Linked DNA regions of Homo sapiens. The protein of the gene in region 2 interacts with the protein of the main gene of each other region in a biochemical or structural test. Each region holds a gene or a part of one and is shown on either strand. Other genes may lie near its edges.

Evidence for each region.
Region 1: of the proteins of NSF (region 2) and PTPN9, one has a biochemical effect on the other in vitro, tested with the Homo sapiens proteins (one study listed by IntAct).
Region 3: the proteins of NSF (region 2) and GABBR1 form a complex in vitro, tested with the Homo sapiens proteins (one study listed by IntAct).

What each region holds. Positions count from the first base shown.
Region 1 is NC_000015.10:75,499,312-75,506,348, reverse strand, and holds part of PTPN9 (tyrosine-protein phosphatase non-receptor type 9), read left to right. Parts: intron 1-345; coding exon 346-674; intron 675-3,309; exon of another isoform or gene 3,310-3,346; intron 3,347-6,959; exon of another isoform or gene 6,960-7,037. UniProt on the Homo sapiens protein: Protein-tyrosine phosphatase that could participate in the transfer of hydrophobic ligands or in functions of the Golgi apparatus.
Region 2 is NC_000017.11:46,754,646-46,757,978, reverse strand, and holds the end of NSF (vesicle-fusing ATPase), read right to left. Parts: intron 2,666-3,333; coding exon 2,610-2,665; exon of another isoform or gene 2,606-2,609; intron 2,178-2,605; coding exon 2,156-2,177; 3' UTR 515-2,155; downstream 1-514.
Region 3 is NC_000006.12:29,623,180-29,630,216, forward strand, and holds part of GABBR1 (gamma-aminobutyric acid type B receptor subunit 1 isoform a precursor), read right to left. Parts: intron 5,929-7,037; coding exon 5,908-5,928; intron 4,835-5,907; exon of another isoform or gene 4,613-4,834; coding exon of another isoform or gene 4,468-4,612; coding exon 4,307-4,467; intron 846-4,306; coding exon 711-845; intron 297-710; coding exon 126-296; intron 1-125.

The DNA.
Region 1 (7,037 bases), on a different chromosome or scaffold from region 2:
AGTGGCCAAAAAAAGAGTACCAGCATGCAGCGATGCTGGGAAGCCTTGTTAATAATATAAAGCTTTTGTTCACTACATCGTCCTTTCAGAAGATGTATAACAGTGTCCCTAATTCCAGGAGTGAATTTTATATACATTCTGGGAGTTCACACTTTTATCTGGCAAATTCATAGGACTTAAATCTCAGGCAGATGAAATGTAGTCTACTACTTTTACAAGTATACCTTGTATTTCAAGAAAATCTTATCCCATCCTCCAAACCTGATATAAATACATTTATTCTTTGTCACTCTATATGCCTTTCCCTCCTCCCACATACTCACATGGTTCTTTCTAACCTTCCAGATTCAAATATTAAAGACATCTGAGGTCACGCAGCATCTGCCCAGGGAGTGTCTTCCAGAAAACCTGGGTGGGTACGTCAAAATTGATCTCGCCACTTGGAATTTCCAGTTCCTACCCCAGGTGAACGGCCACCCAGATCCCTTCGATGAGATCATCCTGTTCTCCCTCCCTCCTGCCTTAGACTGGGACTCAGTACATGTTCCAGGTCCCCATGCTATGACCATCCAAGAGTTGGTGGACTATGTTAATGCCAGGCAAAAGCAAGGAATCTATGAGGAATATGAAGACATTCGTCGTGAGAACCCTGTTGGCACTTTCCACTGTTCCATGTAAGTAGAAAAAGTTTGGGCCAGCAGCTGGTTACCAGGATGCTTCTGGTAGGCTCTGGCAACAGCTCCTTCCACCCCTCACTTGCTTAGCAGAGACCCTTCCTTATGTTAGGGAACATCACTCTCACATAAATGATGGTTTCTCGCATGCAGAAAGAGGTACTTTCTGCTTTGGTGCTTCTTTTTTTTTTTCTTTTTTTTTTAAATTTTTATTTTTTTTATTGATCATTCTTGGGTGTTTCTCGCAGAGGGGGATTTGGCAGGGTCATAGGACAATAGTGGAGGGAAGGTTGGCAGATAAACAAGTGAACAAAGGTCTCTGGTTTTCCTAGGCAGAGGACCCTGCGGCCTTCCGCAGTGTTTGTGTCCCTGGGTACTTGAGATTAGGGAGTGGTGATGATTCTTAACGAGCATGCTGCCTTCAAGCATCTGTTTAACAAAGCACATCTTGCACCGCCCTTAATCCATTTAACCCTGAGTGGACACAGCACATGTTTCAGAGAGCACAGGGTTGGGGGTAAGGTCACCGATCAACAGGATCCCAAGGCAGAAGAATTTATCTTAGTACAGAACAAAATGAAAAGTCTCCCATGTCTACTTTCTACACAGACACGGCAACCATCCGATTTCTCAATCTTTTCCCCACCTTTCCCCCCTTTCTATTCCACAAAACCGCCATTGTCATCCTGGCCCGTTCTCAATGAGCTGTTGGGTACACCTCCCAGACGAGGTGGTGGCTGGGCAGAGGGGCTCCTCACTTCCTAGTAGGGGTGGCTGGGCAGAGGTGCCCCTCACCTCCCGGACGGGGTGGCTGGCCAGACCCCCCCACCTCCCTCCCGGACGGGGCGGCTGGCCAGGCGGGGGGCTGACCCCCCCACCTCCCTCCCGGACGGGGCGGCTGGCCGGGCAGAGGGGCTCCTCACTTCCCAGTAGGGGCGGCCGGGCAGAGGCGCCCCTCACCTCCCGGGCGGGGGGCTGACCCCCCCACCTCCCTCCCGGACAGGGCGGCTGGCCGGGCGGGGGGCTGACCCCCCCACCTCCCTCCCAGACGGGGCGGCTGGCCGGGCAGAGGGGCTCCTCACTTCCCAGTAGGGGCGGCAGGGCAGAGGCGCCCCTCACCTCCTGGACGGGGCGGCTGGCTGGGCGGGGGGCTGACCCCCCCCACCTCCCTCCCGGACGTGGGGCTGACCCCTCCACCTCCCTCCCGGACCGGGCGGCTGGCCGGGCGGGGGGCTGATCCCCCCACCTCCCTCCCGGACGGGTCGGCTGGCCGGGCGGGGGGCTGAGCCCCCCACCTCCCTCCCGGACGGGGTGGCTGGCCCGGCAGAGGGGCTCCTCACTTCCCAGTAGGGGCGGCTGGGCAGAGGCGCCCCTCACCTCCCGGACGGGGCGGCTGGCCGGGCAGGGGGCTGACCTCACCTCCCTCCCGGACGGGGCGGCTGGCCGGGCGGGGGGCTGACCCCCCCGACCTCCCTCCCGGACATGGGGCTGACCCCCCCACCTCCCTCCCGGACGGGGCGGCTGTCCGGGCGGGGGGCTGACCTCCCCACCTCCCTCCCGGACGGGGCGGCTGTCCGGGCGGGGTGCTGATCCCCCCACCTCCCTCCCGGACGGGTCGGCTGGCCGGGCGGGGGGCTGAGCCCCCCACCTCCCTCCCGGACGGGGCGGCTGGCCCGGCAGAGGGGCTCCTCACTTCCCAGTAGGGGCGGCTGGGCAGAGGCGCCCCTCACCTCCCGGACGGGGCGGCTGGCCGGGCGGGGGGCTGACCCCACCTCCCTCCCGGACGGGGCGGCTGGCCGGGCGGAGGGCTGACCCCCCCTCACCTCCCTCCCGGACGGGGCGGCTGGCCGGGCGGGGGGCTGACCCCCCCACCTCCCTCCCGGACGGGGGGCTGACCCCCCCCCCACCTCCCTCCCGGATGGGGCGGCTGGCCGGGTTGGGGGCTGACTCCCCCACCTCCCTCCCGGACGGGGTGGCTGGCCAGGCAGAGGGGCTCCTCACTTCCCAGTAGGGGCGGCTGGGCAGAGGCGCCCCTCACCTCCCGGACGGGGCGGCTGGCCGGGCGGGGGGCTGACCCCCCCACCTCCCTCCCGGACGGAGCGGCTGGCCGGGCGGGGGGCTGACCCCCCCACCTCCCTCCCGGACGGGGCGGCTGCCGGGCGGAGACGCTCCTCACTTCCCAGACGGGGTGGCTGCCGGGCAGAGGGACTCCTCACTTCTCAGACGGGGCGGCTGCCGGGCGGAGGGGCTCCTCACTTCTCAGATGGGGCGGATGCTGGGCGGAGGGTCTCCTCACTTCTCAGACGGGGCGGCTGGGCAGAGACGCTCCTCACCTCCCAGACGGGGTCGCGACCGGGCAGAGGAGCTCCTCACATCCCAGACGGGGCAGCGGGGCAGAGGCGCTCCCCACATCTCAGACGATGGGCGGCCGGGCAGAGATGCTCCTCACTTCCCAGATGGGATGGCTGCCGGGAAGAGGCGCTCCTCACTTCCTAGATGGGATGGCGGCCGGGCAGAGACGCTCCTCACTTTCCAGACTGGGCAGCCAGGCAGAGGGGCTCCTCACGTCCCAGACGATGGGCGGCCAGGCAGAGACGCTCCTCACTTCCCAGACGGGGTGGTGGCCGGGCAGAGGCTGCAATCTCGGCACTTTGGGAGGCCAAGGCAGGCGGCTGGGAGATGGAGGTTGTAGTGAGCTGAGATCACGCCACTGCACTCCAGCCTGGGCACCATTGGGTGCTTCTTGCTAACATCCTATGCTCTGAAATTTCTGAAGGTCTTTGGTACCAACAGGATAACCCTGTTGGACATATTTTTGGATATTTTTCTGAAATGCAAGTTTTTTTTAAAAAAAGTAGGTTCAAAATAGGCTACTCTCTATTCCAGTACTCAGTGTGAGTGCTGGTCTGTTCATTTGGGCAGTTTCTCCCCATAACATTTATGGTATAACATTACTTCTTGAGGAGGGGTATGTGGTACACTTAAAATAATCCACAGTCAGAGAGTACAGTTGCCTCATAGGACTTTAACCCCTTGAGATTTTCATTCTACTCAAATCCTATCACAAAACCATCTCGCTAGTTTATAACTCTGGCTCGTAACTAGTTGATAACTATATATACATACATACATATATATATACACACCCACACACAAATTAGCTGGGTGTGGTGGCGCACACCTGTAATTCCTTCCTTCCTCCCTCCCTCTCTTTTTTTTTTCTTTCTGAGATGGAGTCTCGTTCTGTCACCCAGGCTGGAGTGCAATGGCACGATCTCGGCTCACTGCAACCTCCGCCTCCCAGGTTCAAGCGATTCTTCCTGCCTCACCCTCCCAAGTAGCTGGAATTATAGGCGCGCACCACCATGCCTGGCTAATTTTTGTATTTTTAGTAGAGACAGGGTTTCACGATGTTGTCCAGGTTGATCTTGAACTCCTGACCTCAGGTGATCTGCCTGCCTCAGCCTCCCGAAGTGCTGGGATTACAGGTATGATCTACCGCACCTGGCCTCTTTTTCTTTTTTCTCTTCTCTTCTTTTCTTCTTCTCTTCTCCTTTTCTTTTCTTTTATCCTTTTCTTTTCCTCAAATTCCTAGGTTAAAGCGATCCTCCTACTTCAGCCTCCTGAGTAGCTGGGACTACAGGTATGTGCCACTATGTCCAGCTCATTTTTTATTTTTTGAAGAGATGGGGTTTTGGCATGTTGCCCAGGCTGGTCTCAAACTCCGAGGCTCAAGTGATCCTCCTGCCTCAACCTCCCAAAGTGTTGGGATTACAGGTGTGAGCCACCGCACCTGGTCAGATTATTTCTCTTACCATGTTGCTGTCATTTCTCTTACCATGTTTTAATTGGCTGCCCCAGAAATCTCTTTCTCTCCAGCTAGTGAGCTGTGACTGTTGAAAACTACAGAAACTAGGGCTGGGGGCAGTGGCTCATGCCTATAATCCCAGCACTTTGGGAGTAAAGGTATAGGAGGATCATTTGTGCCCAGGAGTTTGAGACTAACCTGAGCAGCATAGCAAGACCCTACCTCTACAAAAATAAAAAACGAAAAAATTAGCCAGGCATGGTGGCACACTCCTGTTGTCCCAGCTATGCAGGAGGATCACTTGAGCCCGGGAGGTCAAGACCACAGTGAGTTATGATCACGCCACTGAGCTCCAGCCTAAGTGACAGAGTAAGACTTTGTCTAAGGAAAAAAAAAAAAAAAGAAAGAAAGAAAAGAAGAGGAAAAAAAAAAAAGAAAGAAAATGAGGGAAGCCATCCTAGTGGGTCCCAGCCTCATATTCCAACTTAACCAAAAATTCCCTCTGTGAGTGACACAAGTTATTTCCCTTCTCAGCACTTTGGTTTTCCTCTGTATAATATGTGACTACTGGACTCTGATATTCACCTACCTTTGTAGCTTAAATGTTTTAGAAATCTAGGATTCTGTGAGTACCTCTTCTCTCTTGTAACTCCTGTCCAGTGTAGTCAGTGTGTTCTGAATAAGATGCAGGGATAGAGTCTTTTAGCAAAGCAAAGAGGGAAAATAATGAGTTGGGGAAAATAATGAGATAGGGAAAGTAAGAGATAAGAGGCACTTGAGAAAGAAGTCAATCAGATCAAGAATGCAAAGGAAAATAAGAGGAGAAAAAGGGGACACAGACCATATATCAACAAGGGAAATTATTCTTTTCTCTCATACAGCTCTGTTTCTTCCCTACCAGCTCCAGACCCCTATTTTTATTTAATTTTTATTTCATTTTACTTATTGTATTTATTATTTTATTATTATTATTTTTTTTAGAGACAGGGTCTTGCTCTGTCCCCCAGACTGGCGCATAGTGGCATGATCATGGCTCACTGCAGCCTCCATCTCTTGATGCTCAATTGATCCTCCTGCCTCAGCCTCTTGAGTAGCTGAGACCACAGACATGCACCACCATGCCTGGCTAATTTTTTAAATTTTTTGTAGAGTCTCCCTATGTTGCCCAGGCTGGTCTTGAACCCCTGGGCTCAAGTGATCCTCCTGCCTCAGCCTTCCAAAGTGCTGGAATTATGGGTGCTACCTATACCCAACTACCAGACTCCCTGTTTATATCCAATCTCTTTTGCAAACAGAACAGTTATTCCCTTAAAGTCTTTTTTGTTGTTGTTGAGACAGTCTCACTCCATCACCCAGGCTGGAGTGCAATGGTATGATTTCGGCCCACTGCAACCTCCGCCTTGTGGGTTCAAGCCATTCTGTGCCTTAGTCTCCCAAGTAGATGGAATTACAGGTGTGTGCCACCACACCCAACTAATTTGTGTGTGTATATATATGTGTGTGTGTGTGTGTGTGTGTGTGTATGTATGTTTGTTTATTTATTTATTTATTTATTTTGAGACAGAGTCTCACTCTCGGCCAGGCTAGAGTGCAGTGCCACGATCTCAGCCCACTGCAACCTCCATCTCCCGGCTCAAGCAATTCTCCTGCCTCAGCCTCCTGAGTAGCTGGGATTACAGGCGTGTGCCACCACACCCGGTTAATTTTGTATTTTTAGTAGAGATGGGGTTTCACTGTGTTGGCCAGGCTGGTCTCAAACTCCTGACCTCGGGTGATTCGTCCTCCTTGGCTTCCCAAAGTGCTAGGATTACAGGCGTGAGCCACCATGCCTGGCCTAATTTGTGTATTTTTAGTAGAGATGGGGTTTTGCCATGTTGGCCAGGCTGATCTCGAACTCCTGACCTCAAGTGATCTGCCCACCTCAGCCCTGCAAAGTGCTGGGATTACAGGCATGAGCCACTATGCCCAGCCTCCCTTGCAGTCTTGAATCAAGGAAATATGTTGGAGCAGGGAGGCATGCTAGGCTGATCTAAGAGGATGCACACTTATCCTGGGGATTCTTCACCTTGCTCTCGGTGCTTTTGCAACTACCAGCTGCTGTGAGGCCCTTGAGATGTCATTTCTACTATGGAGTCTCCCCTCCTCCATTAAAAAAGTGGGTTTGGCTGGGCGCGGTGGCTCACGCCTGTAATCGCAGCACTTTGGGAGGTTGAGGCTGGCAGATCACGAGGTCAAGAGATTGAGAACATCCTGGCCAACATGGTGAAACCCCGTCTCTTCTAATAATACAAAAATTAGCTGGGTGTGGTGGCACGCACCTGTAGTCCCAGCTACTTGGGAGGCTGAGGCAGGAGAATCACTTGAGCCCAGGAGGCGGAGGTTGCTGTGAGCCAAGATCATGCCACCGCACTCCAGCCTGGGCGATAGAGCAAGACTCTGTCTCAAAAAAAAAAAAAAAAAAAAAAAAGTGGGTTTAGATCGTCTTGTTGCCATCATCCAAACCAGCTACCATTTGACAATCAGAGAACAGATCTCTCATCTAATGAGAGGACTTC
Region 2 (3,333 bases):
TCTGTTGCCCAGGCTGAGTGCAAGTGGCGTGATCCTGGCTCACTGCAACCTCTGCCTCCCAGGTTCAAGCAATTCTCCTGCCTCAGCCTCCTGAGTAGCTGGGATTATAGGCATGTGCCACCACACCCGGCTGTTTTTTGCATTTTTAGTAGAGACAGGGTTTCACCATGTTGGCCAGGCTGGTTTTGAACTACTGACCTCAAGTGATCCACCCACCTCAGCCTCCCTCTCGGATTACAGGCATGAGCCACCGTGCCAGGCATTTTTTTTTTTTAGTAAGATAAAATAAGTATAAAGCATAAAGATGGTTGTATATTAACTTTTTCTGATACTCTAATGATGTTTTTAAATAACTATACTTTCTAAATAAGAGATTTTTAAAATAAAAATCATCCCTCATGTTATGCTACTTGTAACAAAACACGGAGAGGTTTCTTTCCTGAGCCCCCTCCTTCTTCCTCCATTCCTATCAGCTGTTCATGTCGTTCTATATGAAACACTGGTCTACAGAACATTTTCAAGTATATTTACTCTTTATTGCATTCCTTCATTTGCATTAAACAATATTTTTTCAATACAGTTTTGGACAAAACACAAAGACATTAAGCTCATTTAACAAGAGACATAAGTTAACACAATGTGTGCTGCTTTCATGAGGAGGAAAGAGGCAAGATCTTAGAGGAATCCAGGATACTGGCCACCAGGAATCACAGGATCTCACAATACAATCCACTTCTTTAAAAGCCACAAAATAAGCTAGGGAAGAAAACCCAAAACAAAGAAGATATGACATCCAAGTCTCCACCAAAAGTATACAAATGGCAAGATTTGGAGATGATCTGCTTTCTCACATGAGGACAAATAACAGAGGAGCCACACCCAAGTGCCACTGTGGCCACAAGCCTCATGGGTGGCGTGTGAGGTAAGCACCTTAGGATGGCTTCTAATTGCTTGTCCTTGCATTTTAAGCAGCAGTTGGGAGAGAGAGGCACACTCCATAAGTCTCATCACCAAATATGACCTAATTAAATTCCTGCTAAGTCAGTCAGTTGTAAGACAAATCACCCTCAAAAGGACTCAACGGGTGCTTCCTTTTGGAAGAAGTGTGTGGAGGGTAAAGGAAATGTGTTCAATGTATTGGAATGGACAATAAAGGACTGAGGGAGAGGGCTAGAAAATGATTGATTTTTCTGGAGAATAGTGTTTTAGACACTAGATAGTACAGATCATTTAAAATAAAGGATAAATTCTAAGTAAGTCATTAAGCTAAGGAAAAAGCAGTGATACTAGTAAGCCTTAATATTATACTAAGGAATTGACCCACTTGGAGTTGGACACTAATTAGTGCTGAGAGGTTTGTAAATTACTTTAATAACTCCTTTCTGTTTGGGGGTGTATGCTTTTTCCATACCTATCTTTCACATGTTTTTAACAACATCTTCTAAGTGGTAATAATGAGCATATCTCTTACCACAGAGCAAATTAGTTATACTTAAGGGGAAGTCACAACCAACACGGTAGTCATCTGACTTTCTATTAAGAAAGATCTTCTGACTGCAACTTGAAAACATCTCTGACAATGATTGAGAACAGCATTTTAGAGATTCAATGCCTTGTTTCTTCAGGCAAAGAGAATACCAGTCTTGTGGGAGACCTTTAACCAAATACCCAGTGACTTTTAGTGTTAGCTCAGGACAGCTGTCAGAGGATCTCTGGCCCACACCTCGATTTACTAAGCCAGATTTGCATGTAGAAAGTCTGCCTTCTAATCGGCCAACTGTTGTCATGCAACATTCATGACACTGACTGAGAGTTTTCAAGGGTGATGGTGCTAGTAGAGAGGTTGAAACGTGTAGTGTCCACAAGTACTGGATGGTTCCCACCCAGAGGGACTGAGCAAGAAGGAATCACTTTAGCCTGCATGGGAAGGTAAGCGCAGCATTCTAAACCAAATTGACACCTTCCACGAGACACTAAGCTATCTCAGTATGCATAAGGAAGGGAGTTTTATTGCACTAATCATGCAGAGCGAGCACATGTTGAAGGTAGAGAACGTTCCACTTAGTCCAGTATCTTGAGTAAGACAGTGAAGATCCTAGGCCATCTTCACCTTGGTCACTTCCCTTGGTCACTGTGTGTTTCAAATAGTTCATTTTCAATCAAAATCAAGGGGGCTACTGCAAAAGAAATACCAAAACACAAAAAAACAGATGAGGGTCCGTAAAAAACTATTCATCAAAAAAAAAAAAAAAAAAATCACTAAAAGCTTCTTAATGGTTATCCTACATTTCCCACTATGCATTTGCTATTAGATGAGCACTTCACAAAAGAAAATGGTCACAGCTCCATGCATGTAAAAGCAGGTTCCAATAAATATGTACCATTAAGTTTTTCCTGCATTGTGACAAGGAAGTTTTGCGAAGCAGGACAGGGAGAGCAAACCAACAGTACAACCAACTTCCTTGCTTGGTCTCTCGGACCTACAACACAGCGAAGAATTCAAATAAATGGAAACAAACTTATCTAGGAAAGCAACTCTTAGAATAGGCACAGGGATTTAACAGGGTGGTAAGTTTGGTTGATGGTCATTAAATGTTGTATGTACTTACGCTCCTTCTTCTCTTAAGAGGGCCAAGAATTTTCTCACACGGTATTCAGGATCCATCTAAATACATCAGAAGAAATGAAGATGGGTTAATGGTACCTTCTAACAACTCTGCACTTGCTTCATGAGAAGGCAGTGTTCGGTTTCACACTTCATCAATGCTCTGCTAGGTCACTGAATGTGTTACCTGCTCCTTGACCAGCATTCTCACACAAAACAAAGCAGATCACATCATTTGGAGGAAGTGAATGGGGTTTTCCAGAACTATGTACACTGGGTTCCAAAAGACCCAAGCCCGCTGGCCATCATAGGCACTTGGGCCAGGCGTGCCCTGTGCTGATGCCTGTGAGGCATCGCTGTGAGACTGGACAGGGCCATTCATCAGAGTTCAAATGACAACCAATTCACCTGTTGAAGGTGTAAAAGGCTACTAAAGTCACAGCAAAGTAGAAGATACCAAGTTGAGGTTAATTCAACAACTAAAAAATAGCTTATTAACTCTACATAACCAACCATGTAGCTTTTCTTAGCCTCAGTATCCGTCATATAGTTTCTTCTTTGTAGTAACAAAGTTGTGCTAAAACTAAAAAAATGAAGAGTACTGCTGATTCCTGAAATCATCTCCAGATGAATCTGGGTCTCCTGTGACTGCGAATGTGTCATGAGTCTAAGAAAAGATGGCGCAACTTTGTTTCAGGTGCTTCGTTCAGGTCGTTATTATTAGCTAT
Region 3 (7,037 bases), on a different chromosome or scaffold from region 2:
CATGGAATGCGTTCTCTTTCAATGAAGAATCAAGTTCTTGCCCCTAAAAGTGACTCTCACGTCACATCTCCTGGTGCTGGAATTTGAGCTTATGTCCCTTTACCCCTTGCCCAACCCCTCCTCACCGAAGTGAAGACCTCAGTGGTCTGCTGGATGGTAGCAATCTTCTTCCAGCCCCACTTTTCAAAGAGTTTCACGCGGGTAGGGTTGTGGAGTGTGGCTGATGGGTGCGTTCGGAAGAAAGTGGGGAAACGCTGCCGGTTTGACAGGGCTGGTGAGCTGGAGCCATAGGAAAGCTGTGGGGCAGGGAGAGTGAGTGCAACAGGGTCTGTTCACTGAGGACACCAAGAGTGGCCAAGAGTTCCTTTAACCCTCTTCCTGCCTTTGGGTTTCTCTTCCTTACTCTCTCCAAACCTCCCCACCTCTGGTCTGCCTAAGGAAAAGAGATTCTCAAAGGCCCACACACCCCTCACAACCGGGATGCTCTTTCACTGATCTAATTTCAATTCCTTCTGAAGAAGGAGGTCAGCTGCAGCACTGTCAGGCCACTGTTGCTAGGAGGCTGCCTAGCTCAGGTCTGCAGAGGACTCTGAATCTTAGTAGCAGGTCCTCCACACTCCTTTTCAATACAAACCCACAATCGCCATCGTCCCTTCAGTAGAGCTCAAAAGGGAATGACCCCATCTTCTGACCCCCATAGCCCTGCTTACCACAATGAGGTTCCACATCCTAGCAGCCTCAGCCACCAGCGTGGAGACAGAGCTGCAGCCAGGCATAAGGATGATCTTGATAGGGTCGTTGTAGAGCAGCTCATATAGGTACTTGGTGGCTTGGCCTGGATCACACTGAAAGACAAGAGGAGATGAGGGCAAGCTCTCCTGGGGCCCCTCCCCTGTCTGCAATTCCTGCTCTTATCTTTCTCGAACAAATTAGTTCCTTTCTCAATTACTCACTTTCATCATTAATTACCGTTTTCTTCTCCTTTCTGGCATCTCTTCCTGTCAAGTGCCTTTTTTCTCCTCTTTCATTAAACTTCCTTCTCTGTCTTCCATCTGGAGCCTTACCCATCACCTCTCCTGCACACCCCTCCTTTGGTATTAATGAACATACCACCTTACCTCCTTTCAGCTCACCCTCAGACATCCCCCTTCCCTCTGTCACCAAGCCCTTTACCCCATGTTTCTATGCTTCAAACACCAGTGGGTGGAAGAAGTCAGTAGGAATACGGTAAACTCTTTCCACATCCCCAGATAGCTTGCTCAAAGCCATATTATGAAAATTCCTTCCTCACCTCTGCAAACCCCTTCTCCCCACCTTCCATTTGTTTCCTCCCTCTTCTCTTTTCAGAGCTAGTGATAAGTAAAGAGAGAACAGGAACAAGACCAGTAGGGGGTCCCGCTCAGTGATCCATCCCTCCTGCTGGGCGCTGACATTTGACAGGTCCATTAGAAAAAAAGACACTGGGGGGTGGAAGTAGGGAAGAATGTAGGATGAGGAAAGAACAGAGAGAATGAATAGAATGGAACTCTCAAGAAACCAGACAATTTGAGAGGTGCCTTAAAGAGAGGCTTGGAGCTAGGGAAAGTAAACAAGCAGAAAGCTGGAGAAGAAAGGAAGCTTGGGAGGAGGGGAAATGGGGGAGGAAGAGCCAGCCTTGGGTCTCCCACTGCCTGTTCCCCTCCCACTGATATATGACATTTCAGAAGCTGCTGGAACCCCAATGCATGTGAAGACGAAATGGCAGCCAGTGGGGAGCCAGGGCAGAGGGGACACAGACAGGGGGCTCAGGGGACTAAGGAGGGTGAAATGTTGCCAGGAGGGGAGGATAAGTAGAAAGGAAATAAAGAAAGCACTCTGGAGCCTGCTTACCTCCCACTGAGGCCTGACATTTGGGACACGGTGGGAAGTTGGAGAAGGGGGAGCCAGGGGAAGCTGTTGGAATCTGAAGAACCAGCAGTCACTGAGAATTCTCTGTTGCCCACCCTACCCTCACTCTGGCCAAGGGCAGTGCTCAACAACATTGGAAGGTTTTCTCTTTATGCCTCCCACTAGGGCAACTTTGTAAATCTTTACCATTCTCAGGACCCACCTTCCTGCACTCTCCCCACATCTATTACTCCAGATCCTGCTCCCAGCTTCTCCCACAGCCCCTCAGTGCCCCTCCACTTCTCTAAAGACAGGGTTAATAGGAACAATGAGGACATACAAGAACATATAAGATACATATCAACAGGGCAAGGCATGCCCCCCATTTTGTTTCCTGATTTCTTATCTACCTTTTCTTGCAACCGTTTCCCTCTTCCACACACTATTCATCACTGCAGATTCTCTCCACCACGTGATTCTCTCCCCCTCCCCAATAGATTTCCTTAGTTCTCCTCCCTCTCTTTGCTCTTGCAAGGATCTGGATTTGCAGGCAGGAAACCGACTCATTCCAATTGACACATTCTGGTTCTTCTGCCTTCCCATCCCACCCCGCTTGATGCCTCTGATGTTCTCCAGTTCCCTTCTCCCAGGTCCCACGTCTGCTCCCCGCCACCTCCAGGGAATCACCTGTCATGGTGGATGAGTTTGAGCTCACAGCCAGGCCTCCCCTATCTCCTGTGATCCCCTATCATAAAGCCTGCACCCATCTCTCCCTGTCATTTTCTTCACACTCCACTCCCCAAAACCAATGATCTCTCTGACTGTCCCAAGTCTGACCCTCTACCAGATCTGATCCTCTACTTCTCTTCCTGCCTCCCGTACCCTAATACCTAATTATTTTCCTGTACCCTGCTGCTCTTCCCATAGGCATTCTGGGGTTAGCTTACAGCTCAGGAATCCACCAAGATAGGATGTCTATTAGTAAAAATACAGATAAATACTTGGGATTCATCCCTGACCAAGGAGCTAGAATCTGTATTTTTAACAAACTCCTCTGGTGATTCTTATGTACACTGAAGGCTGAGAACCACGAGAAAGTAACAGTCAAAAAGGATTTTAAGTTCTCTTGCCAAGCTCCTGATAATCCTTGTGCTCTCTTCTCTTCAAGCACCCTACCTTCAACCTCACTTCTGTCCCCTCACACACCTATCCCAGACACACACCTATTTCTAGGTGTATAGTGATGTTCTAAAAATGAATATAAATCCTTGGATCACCCCAAGGTTGATATTTGGTAAGATCACCAAATTCTCACCTTGTGTACTCTATTTCACCCTAACCCAATTCCTTAAGTCTCTGGGGCCACATGTCAGTGAAGATAAATTTGAGATCTTAAATCTCCTTCCCTGTGTCACATCCTTCCCTGCACCCCCAATTATTCATGTAGGGGAGAGGGGTGGGAAAAAAAACCTCATTATAAGCTATCCCCTAATACCCCTGGACCCAAATTTGCTTACCTTCTCTCTCTCCCTCAACTCACCTCCCTAATCCCTACATCCCATTTCCCTTCTCACATCCTAGAGGCCACAATGCTATAAGGGAAGGGAAGGTCAGGACCCAAGTTCCATAAGGTGCCCCAAGATCTCTCATTATCCCCACGCTACCTCCTTGCCCCTCTCCCCCACTGCCATTCTTTTCTGTTCTCTTCTCCTTGTATGTTGACTCTTCTTCATCCCCATGCTATTGTGGGGGTTCCCATGTGGATCCCCAATCCAATTCATTTTCCCAGTGCCTCTGCCCACCTCTTGATCATTAGCCTTCCCCAATCACCATATGCCATCTATCCCACAGTCTGGGAATGCTCAACAGGGTTGGGAATAGAAGGATGAGAAGGAGTCAGGTAGGGCTCACCACTACCTTGCTGTTTTGTTAAGATAAATAAACTAGAGCTCTCAAGTCTCTCAAAATTTTCCTCATTCTGTCCCTATTCCTTCCAGCTCCAACCTACGCCAAGATTTTACCTTGTTACCATGGTAAATGTAAACCCCCAATCCAGCTCCCCACCTCTGACATTCCCTCCACCCCCAACCCATTCCAGGGTTAGTTTACTCCCTCAGAGGATCAGTGTCTCCTAATACCTTAAATCCACCACCAGTTTCTCCAAACCCCGACACTTCTGCGAGACTCCCGCAGCGGGGCAGAAGGGTCTGCCTTGCAGCATGCTTAACCATCTTGAGCCCCTAGACCCTCATCTTGGACCTCCAGCCCCTGCGACTCTCCCCAAGCTCCTGCACCCCCAGCCCATCTCCTGCCAGTCACACAAGGGAGGGGTCTGCCTCGCAATCCCAGAGACGACTCAGACAGATGGGGGCGCGTGCAGCTGGCTGGCCCCCTGCCCCGCAAGCCCCCACCTCCCACCCACCCCCATGTCCAGGGCTACCTTGCTGTCGTGGTGGATGAGCTTGAGCTCATAGTCCGGCAGGATGTCCCTGCGGCTATTCACGTCCTCCAGCGCCATCTCCACCGCGGGCTGGCAGGCCTGGCCCCCTGGCCAGCCCCCGCTCATGGGAAACAGTGCCCCGATGTACACTGCGCGCCGTTCTGAGGAGGGGTGCGGGGGGACCCGCGAGTGAGGCCGCGGGAGATGGGGGGAGTGGGAGGCCCACACCGGAGCCACCCCTGCCGCCATCACAACCAGAAGCGGCAGTGGCCACCCCACCCGGGCAAAAGGGGCCCCGGGCCCCATGGCGTGGGGGGCAGGGGTAGCTGTTGGGGAGCGTTAGGAGCTCAGGGGGGACACTTTTCCTGGGGAGGGCTGCTAAGAGGGTGCCGGGGAGGCGCCTCCATCCCTGATTTTGTGGGGAGGAGGGGGCGAGGGCCCCGGAGAAGCAGGGAAGGTTGGCTTCCTACGGCCCCCGCGGCTCTCGCCACCGTCGCCGCCACCGCGGACTCTCCTCGCGGACTGACTGACCGACGGAGGGGAGGAGGAGGAGCAGGAGGGAGATGTGGGGCTGGGAGGGGGCTCTGACGTCACGGGCGGCGCGCGGCAGCGGGGGGTGGGGGGGCGGGCGGGAGCTGGGGAGGCAGGAAGGGGGCGGGGAGGGAAGCGAGCGCCGAGGTGGGAGCGACAGTCGGAGGGGCGGGGAGGGGAGGGGGGATGCAACCTCGAGGAGGAAAGGAACGAAAGAGGAAGGGAGGGATCTCACTTAAGGGGACCCGAGGGGAGGAGAAATGGGGACGGGGCGTGCCAGGAGGGCGGGGTGGGCGGAGGGAGCCGCGGGAGGCTGAAGCACGGAGGAACCAGGGTAGGAAGGGAAGGATGCGAGTGGGACGGGAGAGAAACGGGGCTGGCGCCTGAGGTCTGAAGTGGGAGTATGAGTCGATACAGTGAAGCACTGAGGATGTGGGGGAGAGGAAACGGTTTTGGAGGGAACGAGTTGGGTACGGAAGGGAGGCTGGTTTGAGGGAGTGGTGGGGTCGTGGAAGGGAGCCTGGGGCTGGGTAGACAGAAGCCTAAGAAAGGGAGACAGGACATGGAATTGAGAAAAGACGAGGGAAGGGGTACACGGAAGGAAAAGATGTGGGGAAGAGCGCGAGAGGCCTGGCCAGGGTTGGGATGGGTGGGACAGGCTGAGAAAGTCCATTAGGTGAAATCCTAGGAGGCAGCAGGCTGGAAAAGGTTCCAGCGAAGGTCGCAAGGAACCCCACAGGGGAAAACGTGGTGGGAGCTCAGGGTCTCCCAGCACCCTGCCGCCCTCTGCTGGGCTCTGCCTGACACCGGCGAGGCTCAGTCTGGGAGGAGGTGGAGCCCAGGGAAGTGTAGCCAAGCAGGGACAAGGAGAGACCGCAGCCTCGTGGAAAACCGGGACTGGAGGCAGGAAACAGGTAGGGAGGGAAGGGGGTGGCCGCAAACTGGGGTGGGTTGGGGAAGGTGCGAAAGGACGACGCCCCGTAGCCTAAGGGCAGAATTTCAGGGGGGTGGAGGGTGCAGAGTGAAGGGGAGGGCATTGCAGTGCGCGCGGTAAGGGTTTCTCATCTCACCTGAGTGTGGCGTTCGATTCACTGGCAGCAGGAAAGACGGGGATCAGAGAAGAGTTACCACTGGCGCCCAGCTTCCCTGGCCTGATCCCCAGCCCCCTCCCACACCTGTCCATGCTGAAGACCGGGGAGAGCAGAAGCCTGCGTTTCTGAGGGGAGGGTGCCTGGGGATAAGAACAAGGTGGGTCTGGGGGTAAGGGGGTCAGGACTTATTTTCTTCTTCGATTTTTCATAGGACAACAGAATTTGAGACGGGAATGCCAATAGCTAAGTTTGGGGCAGATCTTGGTTCTGTGGTGCCTGAATATTACAAAATTGGGAGTCTTTAAGAAAAAAAATTACACATACAATTGGCTTTAAGCAATTGCTGTTAAAATCTTATTTCTGCAATTTTTACAAAAGCCTGTTACCATATGAACACATATCCATCGAGCCCTCTATATTATTAGAGCACAGGAAGAGGGCCCTGTAGGTGAGGAACCTTGAAGTCTAAGTTTCAGTAGTGTCATAAGTCCACCCCTGGATGGGACTCTCAATTTCCAGAATAAAATGGTAAACTAGAAGCAGAATAACTGAGTTATGTGAGGAAAGTAAAGCCCAAGGATCTTGAAAGAATCTACCAGGGTAGAGGAAGTATGAGGCATACAAATGGGATGACTGCATCCCAGGAGAGAAGATGGCAGAGAGTTCGGGTGCCTAGAAAAGGGAGAGTTTGTAAAATTACGTGGCAAAAAAAAAAAAAAAAAAGTAGACAGACACAACACTGATTCCCTTAGGGAATAATGGAGGTTGTCTAGGAAGTACAGAAAAGGACCTGTCTTCTTCCCACCCCATCCCTGAGTTGTTCTTCATCTTCTGATAATGCTGCCTCCAATTTTAAGTCTTTTACCCTAATATGTTTCCACCCCCAGAGCTCCCCTTCTCAATTTTTCTTAGTAGAATGTTTGATTTATTTCTGAGTCTTTACAATAAATCAATTATATAAGGAATGGTGAGGGATGAATTCTAGAAGAGGGTGATGCATGGAAATTTCTAAGTTTAGAGAAAGGGAAAATTGGAGTATTTAAACCTGAAGAAGGTGAGAGAGGTGAGATTCATAAAGGAAAAGAGAAAACGTGAGGTCTAAGAATCGG